2 separate regions of the Homo sapiens genome follow, and region 2 is linked to region 1. A link means that fine-mapping ties the variant in region 1 to the expression of a gene that starts in the linked region. Tissue or cell type: whole blood. Region 1 holds a variant in brackets; the other region holds the start of a gene. All regions are shown on one strand. Distances are from middle to middle.

Evidence for each region. PIP is the estimated chance that this variant, and not a neighbour inherited with it, causes the effect.
Region 2: it holds the start of GZMM, and the variant in region 1 is fine-mapped to the expression of GZMM in whole blood (TOPMed, PIP 0.95).

The regions. Positions count from the first base shown.
Region 1 is chr19:508,137-516,136 of GRCh38, forward strand. All of the region lies in intron 1 of TPGS1 (tubulin polyglutamylase complex subunit 1), which reads left to right. Among named protein-coding and RNA genes, the nearest start is that of MADCAM1-AS1, 4.2 kb to the left of the region's middle. RefSeq lists enhancers at 2,344-2,643, 2,942-3,782, 3,783-4,624 and a silencer at 2,493-2,787. The variant C/G (reference allele first, on the strand shown) is at 3,660.
Region 2 is chr19:540,786-548,785 of GRCh38, forward strand. It overlaps GZMM (granzyme M), which reads left to right and starts at 3,268. Exons shown (of 5, transcript NM_005317.4): 1 at 3,268-3,341; 2 at 6,495-6,651; 3 at 7,757-7,892. The coding sequence starts at 3,287. CDC34 (cell division cycle 34, ubiquitin conjugating enzyme) reads left to right here. Exons shown (of 5, transcript NM_004359.2): 5 at 554-1,302. The coding sequence ends at 767. RefSeq lists an enhancer at 2,636-3,281.

The DNA of each region.
Region 1 (8,000 bases):
AAATCGTGCAGCTCAAGAGGACTTGGCCCGAGGTCGCAGAGCCAGCCCCCGAGCCAGGTCCTCCTAGTCGCCTCCTTAGCAGCCTCATGTTATCCCCGTCCATTCAGCCAGAACGTGAATATTTACAGAGAGCAGCGCAGTCACCCAGGGCCCCCATCTTAGGGGACAGGCTCCCAGCGGGCAGGTGGGGATTCCTGGAAGAGCCTGGCGATGTGCGGGCGGGTTGCAGGGAAGAGGCCCAGCAGGTGCAAATTTAGACCCCGAGTGTGGGGCACACGGGAGGCGGGAAAGCCACGGAATTTGGCTGAAGCATGCGAGGCTGCAGGTGCCTACGCGCGGTGTCCCCTGGCTGGGGCCAGTTCTGAGCCCAGGGAAGGTGGTTGGGGACTATCTGTTGGCGTTGGGGATGGATGGGCTGATGTCTTTTGTTGGGGGGGGGGTCCCCAGAAGCGGAGCCTGAGGTAGGCATTGTGTGTGCAGGTGATTTTACAAGGGGGTGCGCCCAAGAGAACCCAGGAAGGGGGTGGGAAGAGCAGGCAGGGAAGGATGCCAAGCAAAGGTGCCCTTTCAGCCTCATAACCAGGGCATAAGCGCCCACCATGGCAGCCCTCGCCAGAGTCCCAGAGAAGTTCGGGGGGAGAAGAGAGATGGGGAGTGTCCCCCCTACCACGTTCAGGGTGCACAGGTGTCCAAGATCATACTCAGATAAGGGTGGCAGGGTGTTGGGTACCTGGACAAGGAGCAGACTTGCTCCGGTGGCCCAGTGGCTCTGAAGGCCCCGCCCGATGATTTGCTGGAGCCAGGTGGGAGGGGAGCGGGCAAGGGCAGGCCCAGAGGGTCAGTGGAGCCGTTTACTGCGATGGAAGGCCCCTGGTTTGAAGAAGCTGCCAGAGCCACTTGCGGATTAAGTTGGAGGCTGGGAGGAGCCTGGAGACAGGAAGGTAGAAAGAAGCGTCTGCAACTGACGTGGGGCCAGGACAGAAGACTGAACTGGAGGGGTCCTGAAGTCTTCAGGAGAGATGAGAAGAGCTCAGGACCCCACTCTGAGGGCACCTAGCCCAGAGAGCCCACCAGAGAGGGTGAGAACGTGAGACCAGAGGTGAACGGGGAGCAGGAGGAAGATGGCCTCCCAGGACATCCGGAAGAGAATCTCCCAAGGAGGAAAAGGGGTCAACAGCAGGCCCACCACGTATGGTTGTTCAGGTTGAGCACTGCACAAGCCACTCACCCCGTAGACACTGCAGATGAGGATATTTATATTTATATTAATTTCCGAGGGCTGCTGGAACAAATTACCTCCAACTTAGTGGCTTAAAACAACAGAAATTTATTCTCTCACAGTTCTGGAGGGCAGAAGTCTGAAATCGGAGTGTCAGGAGGACCACACTCCCTCTGGAGGCTCCAGGGAAGGAGCCTTCCTTGCCTCCCCAGCCTCCAGTGGCGGCCAGCAGTCTTTGGCTTGTGGCCACATTGCTGCAGTCTCTGCCTCCGTCGTCACGTGGCCTCCTGTGTGTCTCTGTTCTGTGTTCCCTCATAAGGACACCACTAGGCCCCACCCTACTCCAGTGTGACCTCAACCGCCTACATCTGCAAAGCTGCTGTCTCAAATAAGCTCTCAGTCTGAGGTTCTGGATGGGCGTGAGTTTGGTGGGCACCAGTCACCCCAGGACAGGAGTGGAGCCATTGGCTGGAAGAGTTCTCATAGCAGGGACTCAGGGCAAGGGTGGTGCTGGTGGCAGATGCATCCCGGCCCTGGGCTCGCCTGGGCTCCCCAGAGACACAGCCAGTGGGGAATGCAGAAGACAGGTGCACAGACCTGCGTGGCATCTGATTCTGTGCTCATGGAGCCAGGCCTGCTCCCGTCCTCCCAGCAGGCAGCTCCGGCCGCCCCTCCATCCTTGGACCGTCAGGAACCCCTGAGGTCACCTGACCAGTCAGGAAGAGAAGCCCAGAGCAGCCGGGCGCGGTGGCTCACGCCTGTCATCCCAGCACTTTGGGAGGCCGAGGCGGGCGGATCACAAGGTCAGGAGATCGAGACCATCCTGGCTAACACGGTGAAACCCCGTCTCTACTAAAAATACAAAAAATTAGCCGGGTGTGGTGGCGGGCGCCTGTAGTCCCAGCTACTCGGGAGGCTGAGGCAGGAGAATGGCATGAACCCAGGAGGCGGAGCTTGCATTGAGCCGAGATCGCGCCACTGCACTCCAGCCTGGGCGACAGAGCGAGACTCTGTCTCAAAAAAAAAAAAAGAGAAGCTCAGAGCCTGGCAGATTTGTCCCCACTCAGTCCAGTGTGTTGACCCCCAAAGGCTGAGGGGCTGACTGGGGCTGCTCCTGAGAGCATCACCGTGGTAGGCTGGGGGAGAAGTCACCCCAGATCCTCCCTGGCACCTTCTTTTGAGAAATGGCAAGCTCCGGCCGCCAGGGCTGGTGATGGCAGCCACAGTGTCCCCCTCCTGCCACCTTCCTGGTCGTCTCCAAGGCCCCCTGGAGCACACACACAGACGTTACATGACTTGCTGAAGGCCACACGGCCACCGAGGGCAGAGCTGGGGTCAGAGAGCCCCAGAGTGCAGCCCCGGAGGCCTCCTCAGCCACCACGTTGCTCATCCTGGCAGCAAGGGCTGCACTGCCCCCTGCAGGTCACTGCCAGGAAAACGTGCACGAAAACGAAGCCCCAGCTGATCTGGGCCAGGGTTCCCCCGACTCGTCCTCTGGGGGCCGTCCTGGGTACTGCAGGGCCCTGAGCAGCGTCCCTGGCCTCCACCCACTCCTTGCCAGGAGCTCCCCGAGTCGTGACAACCACAGATGTCCCAGACACCGCCCGGCGTCTGCTGGGGGCAGGAGTGGGAAGCAGAAGTCTAAGGTGTAGGGTGGCTCCTGTCTCTTTCTGGAGACGTTCCATAAATAGAATCTTTCCTGTATTAACAAATGCTCACACGCCTTACAAACCGCTCTGTGTAGGAGCCGACACAGACGGAGCCCTGGCTGGGCTCCCGCTTTCCATTTTGCAATCAGGGAAACCAAGGCCCAGAGGCCACCGTCACAGGCAGAGCTGACGTTCCAGCCCCGGCCTCCTCCTCCGAGCCCAGAGCTTGCTGCCTTCCTCTTCCTCCTCCTCCCTCACCCGATGATTCTGCTGGGAGCCGCCCGGGAGCCCAGGAGGGGCGGGTATGCGGCCGCCTTGAAGTGGGCTGTCACCTTCCTGTCTCCTGCCGTCATCATGGCTGTGATCTCACCAGGCTGTAATTACCTCTTTGTGTGTCTTCCTGCCCCTCAAGGCAGCTGTGGCTGAGCTGCAGCCCTAATTACAGCCCAAAATAAGCAGGTGGGGCCTCCCACACGTATGCCAGCTGCTGTCCTGAGCACCTGGCTCCAGCCCCGTTCTCCCGTCCTCACAAGAACCCCCACTCCGTAGATGCACAAGGCCAGGTGCAGAAAAGGAGAGTGCACACAGCTGGGAGGGGCAGACGAACACCCGAGGCAGGCCTGGGCCAGGCACAGAGCCCTGCACACCGAGGGGCCGCGTGGATGCTTGCGGAGCTGGACCAGGGCTGCCGCCCCCAGAGAGGAGAGCATTTATGCAGAAGTGGTGGTGGATGGCGCTGGGTAATCCCGGCCCACAGACCTGTCAGTCAGAAGCTGCGAGCACGACAGGAA[C/G]CAACAACCCCAAACCTCAGTGGCTTCAACACAAGCAAAACTCTTCTCGCTTACTCTGCAGGGGACGTCCAGTTGTTTTTTTGTTGTTTTTTTTGAGATGGAGTCTGGTTCTGTCACCCAGGCTGGAGTGCAGTGGCGCGATCTCGGCTCACTACAAGTTCCGCCTCCTGGGTTGACGCCATTCTCCTGCCTCAGCCTCCCGAGTAGCTGGGACTACAGGCGCCCCCACCACACCCGGCTAATTTTTGTATTTTTAGTAGAGACGGGGTTTCACCATGTTGGCCAGGCTGGTCTTGAACTCCTGACCTCAAGTGATCCACCCGCCTCGGCCTCCCAAAGTGCTGGGATTACAGGCATAAGCCACTGTGCCTGGCCCAGTTTTCTTTTTGAGCCAGGGTCTTGCTGTCACGCAGCCTGCAGTGCAGTGGTGCAATCCCAGCTCACTGCAGCCTCGACCGCCTGGGCTCAAGGGATCCTCCCACCTCAGCCTCCCAAGTACCCGGGACCACAGACGCACGTCACCACACCTGGCTGATTTTTAAATTTTTGTAGAGACAGGATCTCACTATGTTGCCCAGGCTGGTTTCGAACTCCTGGACTCAAGCAATCCTCCTGCCTCGGCCTCCCAAAGTGCTGGGCTCACAGGCAGGAGCCACGGCACCCCCACCCACCCCCCACCAAGGGCTTGTCTGATCTTGACACGCACCTGCAATCATGACCACAGAGAAGTGGACTGAGAAGTAGCACGATGGCTCTTAACATTCCCGCTGAAAGTGGGCCACGCCCCCTCGCACGTTTCAGGGGGCAAAGCAAGGCCCAGAGGCTCACCCTCGGCGGGGTGGAGAAGTGGCGGGTGGAGAAGTGGCGGAGGGATCCGCGGAGCAGCGCTGCCGTCGCCAGCCTTCGAGATGCCCCTGCAAGCCTCGGCTCCCGGGGTTCACGGCCTGGTGCCGTCCCTTCCCCCTGCACAGCCGGAACGGGACTGCAGAAGCAACGGACAGAGTGTGGCCTCCGAGGCGGGTCACGAAGGACATCGTGGTGTCCCCCTCCCTCCTGGGTGGGTTGCTGGCTCGGCTGGGCAGCCGCCATGCGGTGGGGTCGCTCGCGCAGCTCCCAGGGAGCACCTGCAGCCGCTGCCAAGAGCCGCGCGGGTTCCCCTGCGGGGGACTGGGCCGCCTCGCGTCGAGCCCCGGGGGAGTGTGGCCACGGCAACCTCCTAAGAGACCCCAAGCCAGAGCCTCGCAGCAAAGCCGCCGCCGAGACGCTGTGTCAATAGTAAATGCTTGTTGGTTTTGGGCCTCTAGGTTTGGGGTGTGATCTGTGAGGCGGCAGCAGCCTGCCCGGCCTCACAGCAGATCCTGATGAGAGGGGCCCCGGTGCGGCTCCTGCTGGGTCATGCGGAGAGGTCAGGCGTGATGGGAGCTCGGGCCGCCGCGCTGACACTGCGACTGCCCCCAGCGCATTTTGGGGATGACCTCATGGATGGTAAAAGCGCCCAGCGGATTATAAGGGCCAACAAATGGGGCCTTTACTACTTGGGAGGGAAAAGGAGCGTACAGCCAGATGGGCCTAGAGTTGAATTGCAGGTCGCTGCCCTCCTGCCTCTGGGCCTCAGTTTCCTCCTCCATAGCAGAGCTTTGACCCTCGAGCTCGCTGAGATGGCACGTCCATCCCTAAGCCCTGAACTGAGCAGCAGTGATGACCAGGGAGGCACGTGTTCACCAGGCACCCACCGTGCACCGGCCCAGCATTACTGAGCACCTACTGTGCACCCGCCCAGCATTTACTGAGCACCTACTGCATGCCGGCCCTGCATTACTGAACACCTACTGCACACCAGCCCAGCATTACTGAGCACCTACTGCATACTGGCCCTGCATTACTGAGTACCTACTGCACACCAGCCCAGCATTACTGAGTACCTACTGCACACCAGCCCAGCATTACTGAGTACCTACTGCACACCAGCCCAGCATTACTGAGTACCTACTGCACACCAGCCCCACATTTACTGAGCACCTACTGCACACTGGCCCCACATTTACTGAGCACCTATTGCATCCTGGCCCAGCATTTAGTGAGCACCCACTGCACACAACCCCAGCATTACTGAGCACCTACTGTGCACTAGTCCTGCATTACTGAGCACCTGCTGCACACCAACCTGCCCCGGCCCCACATTTACTGAGCACCTATTGCATGCTGGCCCAGCATTTACTGAGCACCCACTGTACACAGACCCAGCATTACTGAGCACCCACTGCACACTGGCCCCACATTTGCTGAGCACCTACTATGTACCAGCCCTGCATTCACTAAGCACCTACTGTACACCAGCCCTGTATTACTGAGCACCCACTGCACACTGACCCTACATTTACTGAGCACCTATTGCATGCTGGCCCAGCATTTACTTCACTCCCACTGCACACCGCCCCAGCATTACTGAGTACCTACCGTGTACTGGCCCTGCATTCACTGAGCACCTACTCTACACCGGCCCTGTATTACTGAGCACCCACTGCACACCGACCCCACGTTTACTAAGCACCTATTGCTTACTGGCCCAGCATTTACTGAGCACCCACTGCACACCGCCCCAGCATTACTGAGTACCTATTGCACACCAGCCCCACATTTACTGAGCACCTATTGCATTCTGGCCCAGCATCACTGAGCACCTACTGTGTACCAGCCCTGCATTACTGAGCACCTGCTGCACACCAACCCTGCATTTACTGAGCACCTACTGCATGCTGGCTTAGCACTTCCCCGGCACCTACCACAGGTGGCCCACAGAAAGGTGAAGTCGTGTGCCCAGGTCATGCCGGAGGGAAGGCTGCCCTCCTCACCATGAAGCTGAGCTCCCAGAAGGGAAAAGCGTAAGCCCTGAGGTTGGCCACTTCCTCTCTGGGACCCTTGGCCAGACCATGGGGCTGCCCTGAGCCTCAGTTTCCCTATATGTCCCAGAGGAAGTAACAGGCCACTAGCATGAGGCCTGGCCGGGAACTGATGGGGGGAGTGAGGCCAGGGGGTTAAGCAGCCCACCCAGGGTCCTGCAGCGGCCCCCACGCTGGCCACGGTGCTCCCTGGCCACTCCCTGGTGCCCTCCACGGGAGTGTGTGTCACACTACCAGCACACGAGTGGCACGTAGTAAGGCCTCAGGCTCCTCACTGGGGCAGGGAATCGAACCCACCCCAGAGCCGGCAGCAGGGCTGACAGCCTTCTTCTGTAAGGGGCCAGATAGTGAACATTTCAGCTTTGCGTGGCAGCCTCCATCCTGACATTCAGCTCTACGGTTCTGGTCGGAAGCTGCCACAGGCCACATGTCAGCGGACTGATGTGGTTATGTTCCGATAAAGCTTTATTTACAAAAGCAGGCAGCAGGTCGTATTTGACCCTCAGGCTGACTGTGGGGCCTTGCCTGTGGGATTGTGGGGAGAGAAATACCACCACTGGCCCCGAGCAGCAACTGTCACCTGTAATCCCAGCAGTTTGGGAGGCTGAGGCAGGAGGATCGCTTGAGCCCAGGAGGTGGAGGCTGCTGTGAGCCCTGATTGTACCACTGCTCTCCAGCCTGCACAACACAGTGAGACCCTGTCTCAAAAAAAAAAAAAAAAGAAAAAATGCAATGTCAGCTGTGTTAAATGTTCAGCACAGACTGGGCGCAGTGGCTCACACCTGTAATCCCAGCACTTTGGGAGGCCGAGGTGGGCGGACCACGAGGTCACTCGAGATCCAGACCATCCTGGCCGACATGGTGAAACCCCGTCTCTACTAAAAATACAAAAATTAGCTGGGTGTGGTAACACACGCCTGTAATCCCAGCAGCTCAGGAGGCTGAGGCAGGAGAATCGCTTGAACCCGGGAGGTGGAGGTTGCTGTGAGCTGAGATTGTGCCACTGCACTCCAGCCTGACAACAGAGTGAGACACTGTCTCAAAAAAAGAAAGAGGGCCGGGCGCGGTGGCTCACGCCTGTAATCCCAGCACTTTGGGAGGCCGAGGCGGGTGGATCACGAGGTCAGGAGATCGAGACCATCCCGGCTAAAACGGTGAAACCCCGTCTCTACTAAAAATACAAAAAATTAGCCGGGCATAGTGGCGGACGCCTGTAGTCCCAGCTACTTGGGAGGCTGAGGCAGGAGAATGGCGTGAACCCGGGAGGCGGAGCTTGCAGTGAGCCGAGATCCCGCCACTGCACTCCAGCCCGGGCGACAGAGCGAGACTCCGTCTCAAAAAAAAAAAAAAAAGGAAGAAAGAAAGAAAGAAAAGAAAAAAACAAATGTCAGTTGTGTTAAATGTTGGGCACAGTATTTGGCCACATGTAAACAGGCGCTGC
Region 2 (8,000 bases), 33 kb after region 1:
TGGGATGGCCAGGCCCCCCGGTTTAGAATCCGGAGGCCGGGGTGGCCAGGCCCCCGGGTTTAGAATCCTGCTGAGGCCACGGAGAGGCTCAGGCCGTTTTTGCGTTTCCCATCTCACCTGTGCTGGTTCCCGTCTCCAGGGATGGTCCTGCCTCCTGTCCTTGGGCCCTCCCAGCTGCTTCCTTTGCTCCTGCGCTGAGGAAGGCTTTTGCCCCCCAGTGGGGCAGCATGGGCCCTCCCTGTTGCCGGCATCGTTATTTTCTCCCAGCTCCTGATGGGTCCCTTGGGTTGTGCTTCGGGGCGGGGCAGGCGGGTGTGACTGCACTGCGCCCGTCCAGCCTCCCACCCGCACCTCCTGCCCTTCCCGAGCCCCCTCCTCTGTCATTTCTCCCCCTGGAGTTCCTCACGCACAGGGCTTTGTCCTAAGTGGTCGCCACACGCCGTTTTAAGAGAAACCTGAGCGTTGGGGTGAGCGTCGGACCTGGGGGAGGGGGGCCGGGCAGGGGCCGAGTCCAGGCACGTGGGTGGCGCCCTCACCCACCCTGTCCCCCCAGGAAGCAGGTCCTGGGGACCAAGGTGGACGCGGAGCGTGACGGCGTGAAGGTGCCCACCACGCTGGCCGAGTACTGCGTGAAGACCAAGGCGCCGGCGCCCGACGAGGGCTCAGACCTCTTCTACGACGACTACTACGAGGACGGCGAGGTGGAGGAGGAGGCCGACAGCTGCTTCGGGGACGATGAGGATGACTCTGGCACGGAGGAGTCCTGACACCACCAGAATAAACTTGCCGAGTTTACCTCACTAGGGCCGGACCCGTGGCTCCTTAGACGACAGACTACCTCACGGAGGTTTTGTGCTGGTCCCCGTCTCCTCTGGTTGTTTCGTTTTGGCTTTTTCTCCCTCCCCATGTCTGTTCTGGGTTTTCACGTGCTTCAGAGAAGAGGGGCTGCCCCACCGCCACTCACGTCACTCGGGGCTCGGTGGACGGGCCCAGGGTGGGAGCGGCCGGCCCACCTGTCCCCTCGGGAGGGGAGCTGAGCCCGACTTCTACCGGGGTCCCCCAGCTTCCGGACTGGCCGCACCCCGGAGGAGCCACGGGGGCGCTGCTGGGAACGTGGGCGGGGGGCCGTTTCCTGACACTACCAGCCTGGGAGGCCCAGGTGTAGCGGTCCGAGGGGCCCGGTCCTGCCTGTCAGCTCCAGGTCCTGGAGCCACGTCCAGCACAGAGTGGACGGATTCACCGTGGCCGACTCTTTTCCCTGCTTTGGTTTGTTTGAAATCTAAATAAAACTACTTTATGAGAGGCCAGAGAAGCTGTGCTTGGGAGGGAGAGGCAGCCTCCACGTCCATGAGTGACTGCACACGGCCAGTCCCACTGGGACCCTGGCTACGCCAGGTGTGGATCTGGGAGGCCTGTCCTGGGAGGCACGGGGAGCAGCCGGGTCCCGCGGCCTGTACGTTCCCATGACTTGGGTCAGACAGGCCTGGGCAGCATCCCCCAGCCTGCGGGACAGGGGCGGCCAGAAAGCCCCCAGAGTTCCTCCTCCCTGTGACCAGGTGCATCTAGTGGGACGGGAGCTGCCTCTGCAGGCATCCAGCAAAGCTTCGTCGCGGGTCCACAGCCGCCTGGGCGTTGATCTCAGCGTCTCAGGGCTCCCAGGACCACAGATGCCCCCGATCAGCACTCCGGCGGCTCCAGCTCCGTCCAGGCACACCCTCGGGGTGGGGAGCCGTGGCCCTGGGCACACAGGGCAGGCACCTCACGTCCTGGTGTCAGGAAGTCCCCAGCATCGTTTTATTACATGTCATGGAGGAAAGCTCGGAGCTCCCATGCCCTCCCGGGGCACCGCCTTCCAGGAACCTGCCTGCGTTCCGCTTCTGGGCACCCGGAAAGTCGCTCAGTGGCTGATTCAGGGTCGAGGAGCTGTGAGGATGAGGTTTCCCACCAAGTTGGGACAGAAAATGGGGCCCTGGGGTCTCAGCAAACCATGGCCCTCGGGACCAAACCTGGCGTCCGCCCCTATTGTGAGTGAAGTGTTACTGGCACAGCCACACCCAGGTCTCAGGATCATCCATAGCTGCTTGGTTTGGTTTGGTTTTGTTTTTGAGACACAGTCTTGTGTTGCCCAGGCTGGAGTGCAGTGGTGCGATCTCGCCTCCTGGGTTCAAGTGATTCTCCTGCCTCAGCCTCCTGAGTAGCTGGGACTACAGGCTCCCACCACCATGCCCAGCTGATTTTTGTATTTTTAGTAGAGATGGGGTTTCACCATGTTGGCCAGGATGGTCTCGAACTCCCAACCTCAGGTGATCGCCCGCCTCGGCCTCCCAAAGTGCTGGGATTACAGGCGTGAGCCGCCGCGCCCGGCCTAAATTTATTTATTTTTGAGACAGGGTCTTGCTCTGTCACCCAGGCTGAAGAGCAGTGGTGCAATTACGGCTCACTGCAGCCCCAACCTGGGCTCAAGCGATCCTCCTGCCCCAGTCTCTCAAAGTGCTGGGATTACAGGTGTGAGCCACCGCCTTCGGCCAGTGTCTTTATTCATGAAGACCAAAAACTAGAACAGCGCAAATATCCGTCCGCTGGTGAATGCATAAACACAGCGTGGTCCAGCCACACAATGGGATGTGACACAGCCACAAAAAGGAGCGAGGCTCTGACACAGGCCACAGCCTGGATGCACCTTGAGGACGTCATGCTGGGAGAGACGCCAACGCAACAGGTCCTGTGTGATTCCACTCCTGGGAGGTCCCTAGAGACCAATTCAGAGGCAGGAAGTAGTGGCCGGGCGCGGTGGCTCATGCCTGTAATCCCAGCACTGGGAGGCCGAGGTGGGTGGATCACCTGAGGTCGGGAGTTTGAGACCAGCCTGGTCAACATGGTGAAACCTCGTCTCTACTAAGAATACGAAAATTAGCCGGGCGTGGTGGTGGGCACCTGTAGTCCCACTACTCGGGAGGCTGAGGCCGGAGTATGGCGTGAACCCGGGAGGCGGAGCTTGCAGTGAGCCGAGATCGCACCACCGCACTCCAGCCTGGGCGACAGAGCGAGACTCCATCTCTGAAAAAAAAAAAAAAAAAAAAGTGTTACTTTGTCAGGTGTGATGATGGTAGTGTGGCTTCATCTCGAGTCCTCTTTGAGAAACACTTTCTAAAATGCTCAAGGATGGAGGGTGGAGGGTGTGCAGCGGTGGGCGGGGCTGTGACCGTCACCTCACCTCCCCCACAGGAAGCGCGTGTGGGGAGGCTCGGGGCCGGGGCCAGCACCCACACTGGGTCTCCACAGCGGCATGGAGGCCTGCGTGTCTTCACTGCTGGTGCTGGCCCTGGGGGCCCTGTCAGTAGGTGAGTGGGAGCCGGGATGCAGGGGGGACACTGAGGCCCAGCGCTCTCGGTGGGTCCCTGGATGGGAGGGGTGGGCGCGGGCGCCGACATCCTGGGTGTAAGAGCGGAGATTCATCCTTGTTTGGAGGGGGACTGAGGCCTGGGGCATCCCGAGCTCCTCACGCTTCACCCCGAGTGGACATCCCGGGACCGTGGGAGAGTGTGGTGTCCACCGGCTCACCTCGCCCATCCTCCCGGCAGCAGCCAGAAGGCAGGGGTCACGCTCACACCCGAGGTGCAGAGTAGGAGACTGAGACTTGGCGAAGGAGATGCTGACCTAGGACTGCCCAGCTGGGAGGGCAGAGCTGGGACTCGATCCCCGCTGGCTGCCTGCCACCACCAAGGGCTTGGCTGGGACTAGGTGCCCAGCAGTGAGGGAGAAGGGAGGTGGGTGGCGGCTCCCCTGCATTCCAGCTGGACTGAGTGACAGGGGCTCTTGATGAGTTGGGGACCCAAGAAGATGGACAGAGGTAGGAATCCAGCCGTCAGTCATCATCATCCTTCCTCCCATTTTTATTTCCTTCCACCCATGGGTCCATCATCCCTCCCTCCCTCCCTCCCTCCCTCCCTCATCTCCCCTTCCTTCCCTCTACCCGTCCGTCCACCCATCATTCCTCCTTCCATTCTTCCACCCACCCATCCATCATCCATCCCTCTACCCATGGGTCCATCATCCATCCCTCCCTCCCTCCTTTCGTTCCCCCTTCCTTCCCTCCGCCAGTCCATCCACCCATCATTCCTCCTTCCTCCCATTCTTCCACCCACCCGTCCATCCATCATCCATCCCTCCTTTCAACCTCCCTCCTTCCCTCCACCCGTCATCCTTCCCTCCCTCCTTCCATGTATCCACCCATCCATCCATCATGCCTCTCTCTTCCTTTCCCCCCTCCTTCCCTCCTCCCTCCCATCCATCCATCATCCATTCCTCCTTCCATCCCTCCTTCCTTTCTCCCGTGCTTCTGTGTATCCATCCGTATTTGCAGGGCTCGTGCTGTTCTAGGCCTGCCCTCCTGTCTGACTGGAAGAGACAGGCCAGGCATGAGACTGTGCAGAGCGGAGGAAACACGGAGGGCAAGAGGGCGGGTGGGGGGCCGTTGCAGGAGACGAGCATAAACCAAGGGAGGAAGCCGGTGGGGGAAAGGTACGCAGGCAGCTAAGTGAGACAGACAAAGGCCCAGGGTGCAGGCAGCTTGCAGGCACAGCTAGACTTGCACTCTTGTCACCCAGGCTGGAGTGCGATGGTGCCATCTCGGCTCACTGCAGCCTCCGCCTCCTGGTTTCAAGCGATTCTCCTGCCTCAGCCTCCCGAGTAGCTGGGATTACAGGCGCCTGCCACCATGCCGGGCTAATTTTGTATTTTTAGTAGAGACAGGGTTTCCCCGTGTTGGTCAGGCTGGTCTCAAACTCCCAACCTCAGGTGATCCGCCTGCCTCGGCCTCCCAAAGCGCTGGGATTACAGGCGTGAGCCACCGCGCCCGGCCTATTTTTTTTTTTTAAGATGGAGTTCTGCTATTCTTGCCCAGGCTGGAGTGCAATGGCACGATCTCGGCTCACCACAACCTCTGCCTCCCGGGTTCAAGCGATTCTCCTGTCTCAGCCTCCCAAGTAGCTGAGATTACAGATGCCCGCCACCTCGCCCGGCTAATTTTTTGTATTTTTAGTAGAGACGGGGTTTCACCGTGTTAGCCAGGATGGTCTCGATCTCCTGACCTCGTGATCCACCTGCCTCGGCCTCCCAAAGTGCTGGGATTACAGGCGTGAGCCACCGCACCCGGCCTTAATTTCTGTATTTTTAGTACAGACGGGGTTTTACCACATTGGCCAGGCTGATCTCCAACTCCTGACCTCAGGCTGTCTGCCCACCTTGACCTCCCAAAGTGCTGGGATTATAGGCGTGAGCCACTGCACCGGCCCGCAAGCGGGGACTTGATTTTCAAAGCATGATGGGGATTCAGAGAAGATTTTGAGCTGATTTACGTTACATTATGAAATCAATCCTTTTATATTTATGATTGATTTAAAATAATTTTTGTACAGCTTTATTAGGAAATTATGCACTATACAATTTACTTATTTAAAGACTACATTTCTTGCTGGGCACAGTGGCTCACGCCTGTCATCCCAGCACTTTGGGAGGCCAAGGAGGGTGGATCACCTGAGGTTAGGTGTTTGAGGCCAGCCTGGCCAACACGGCGAAACCCTGTCGCTACTAAAAATACAAAAAAATTAGCCGGACGTGGTGATGCGCTTCTGTAATCCCAGCTACTCGGGAGGCTGAGGCAGGAGAATCGCTTGAACCCAGGAGGCAGAGGTTGCAGTGAGCTGAGATCACGGCACTGCATTCCAGGCTGGGTAACAGAGTGAGACTCCATCTCAAAAAAAAAAAAAAAATGGCCAGGTGCAGTGGCTCATACCTGTAATCCCAGCACTTTGGGAGGCTGAGATGGGTGGATCACAAGGTCAGGAGTTCGAGACCAGCCTGGCTAACATGGTGAAACCCCATCTGTACTAAAAATACAAAAATTATCCAGGCGTGGTGGCAGGTGCCTGTAGTCCCAGCTACTCGGGAGACTGAGTCAGGAGAATGGCATGAACCCAGGAGGCGGAGCTTGCAGTGAGCCGAGATCGTGCCATTGCACTCCAGCCTGGGTGACAGAGCGAGACTCTGTCTCAAAAAAAAAGAAAAAAAAAGTTTTTTTTAAGAGACTGGGTCTTGCTGTGTCGCCCAGGCTGGTCTCGAACTCCTGGCCTCAAGTGATCCTCCCTCCTCAGCCTCCCGAAGTGCTGGGATCACAGGGGTGAGCCACCCACATCCGGCCTGATGTGCGTTTTGAAGGACTCCTGTGGCTGTGGGGCCCAGTGGGGCCTGGGGAGGTCCTGGAGAGGGGATTGGGAGGTGGCCTGGGGGGAACATGATGGGGGTGATGAGAGGGGGATGGGAGGGATGAAGGGCAGCCCACACGTATCAGCCTAAAAGTTTCGGGGAACACTGGGGACTTCATTAGGATGGCACATCTGCTTGGGGTCCTGGGCCTCTGAGCTGGGCAAGGACAGTCGCAGCAGGCAGCAGGGGCATGTAGCCCCAACCTGGCTCTTTGTCCCCCATCCTGGCAGGCAGCTCCTTTGGGACCCAGATCATCGGGGGCCGGGAGGTGATCCCCCACTCGCGCCCGTACATGGCCTCACTGCAGAGAAATGGCTCCCACCTGTGCGGGGGTGTCCTGGTGCACCCAAAGTGGGTGCTGACGGCTGCCCACTGCCTGGCCCAGCGGTGAGTACCCTGCCCTGCCCACCCCAGGGGTCCGGGGAATCCATCCGACGGCGCCCATTCTCTGCAGGGGGTGGGCTCTGGGAGATTTAGGCCCATTGTGGGACCCCCGTCCCCTCCCGGTGACGACTTAGGCAGGTTTAAGTGACCTGCGGCTGTGGGACTCCTGGAGAAGGTTTACTCCTTGCAAGAGGCACTGGCAGGGCCAGCTCCTTCCACACCGCAGCCTGGGTCAGAGCCTGGCTCCTTTCACGGCTGAGCCACAGTCCTGGTGTGGACAGAGTGCATTGTGTCTGTCCATTCACCTGCTGATGGACCCAACTTAGGCGGGGGCTTCTGCTATAAGGAAGGAGGGTCAGGTGGGGGTGTTTGCCACCTGTGGCCAGGAGGTCGAAGCCGGCCTTCGAGAGTGGCTCGGGAATCGACCTGGTTCCCGGGGATCAGGAAGCCGCTAAATGACCCATCATGGAGTTGCCCTACCTCAGGACTGGTCCGTCATACAGAGCCCAGATCAAGATGGTCAAAGTAACAAAAAGGGATCTGCCGGCTTGTGTAACTGCAAAGTCTAGGAGGAGGCCTGGCTTCAGGTGCGGCTTGATCCAGGTGCTCACAGGAGGCGCTGTGGAGCCCATCTGTCTCCCAGCTCTGCTGCACTACCAGGAAGCCTGTCTCACAAGGTGGAAAGATTGACCCTCCTCAGTCCCATGGAAAGAGGGCTTGGCTCTCTAAAGTTGGGGCACACTTAGGAGGATTGGCATGTGTCAACCCCTGTACAAATCACTGTGGTTGAGCCTGGGGCCCCAAGTGAAGGGAATTCCCAGGGCTGGTTTTCGTGAAGCTGTAGGCTTGGGGTTGGATTTTTGGACACACAGCCCTTGCCTGGGGCCAGGGCCGGGCAGAAGTCTGGGGCAGGGGTGAGAGCAGGGAGGGCTTCCTGGAGGAGGTGGGTTGCAAAGACACAGGGAAGGACTGGCCAAGCCAAGGCCTGTGAGGGGCAGCGGCTGTGAGTGATGGCCATGGACAACGGGCACAGTGGGGGCCGGGACTGCATGTGGCGGGTCGTCCACGCCGGGCCAGGCCGCAGCACCCTGATTCCCTCTGTCCCCAGGATGGCCCAGCTGAGGCTGGTGCTGGGGCTCCACACCCTGGACAGCCCCGGTCTCACCTTCCACATCAAGGCAGCCATCCAGCACCCTCGCTACAAGCCCGTCCCTGCCCTGGAGAACGACCTCGCGCTGCTTCAGGTGTGCAGGGACGGGACAGGGAGAACTGGGCACCCTCCTGTCCCCCACGGGTGCCCCTCACCCCCACTGCGCCCTCCCCCCGCTGCCGACCCTCCCCCCGCACTGCTG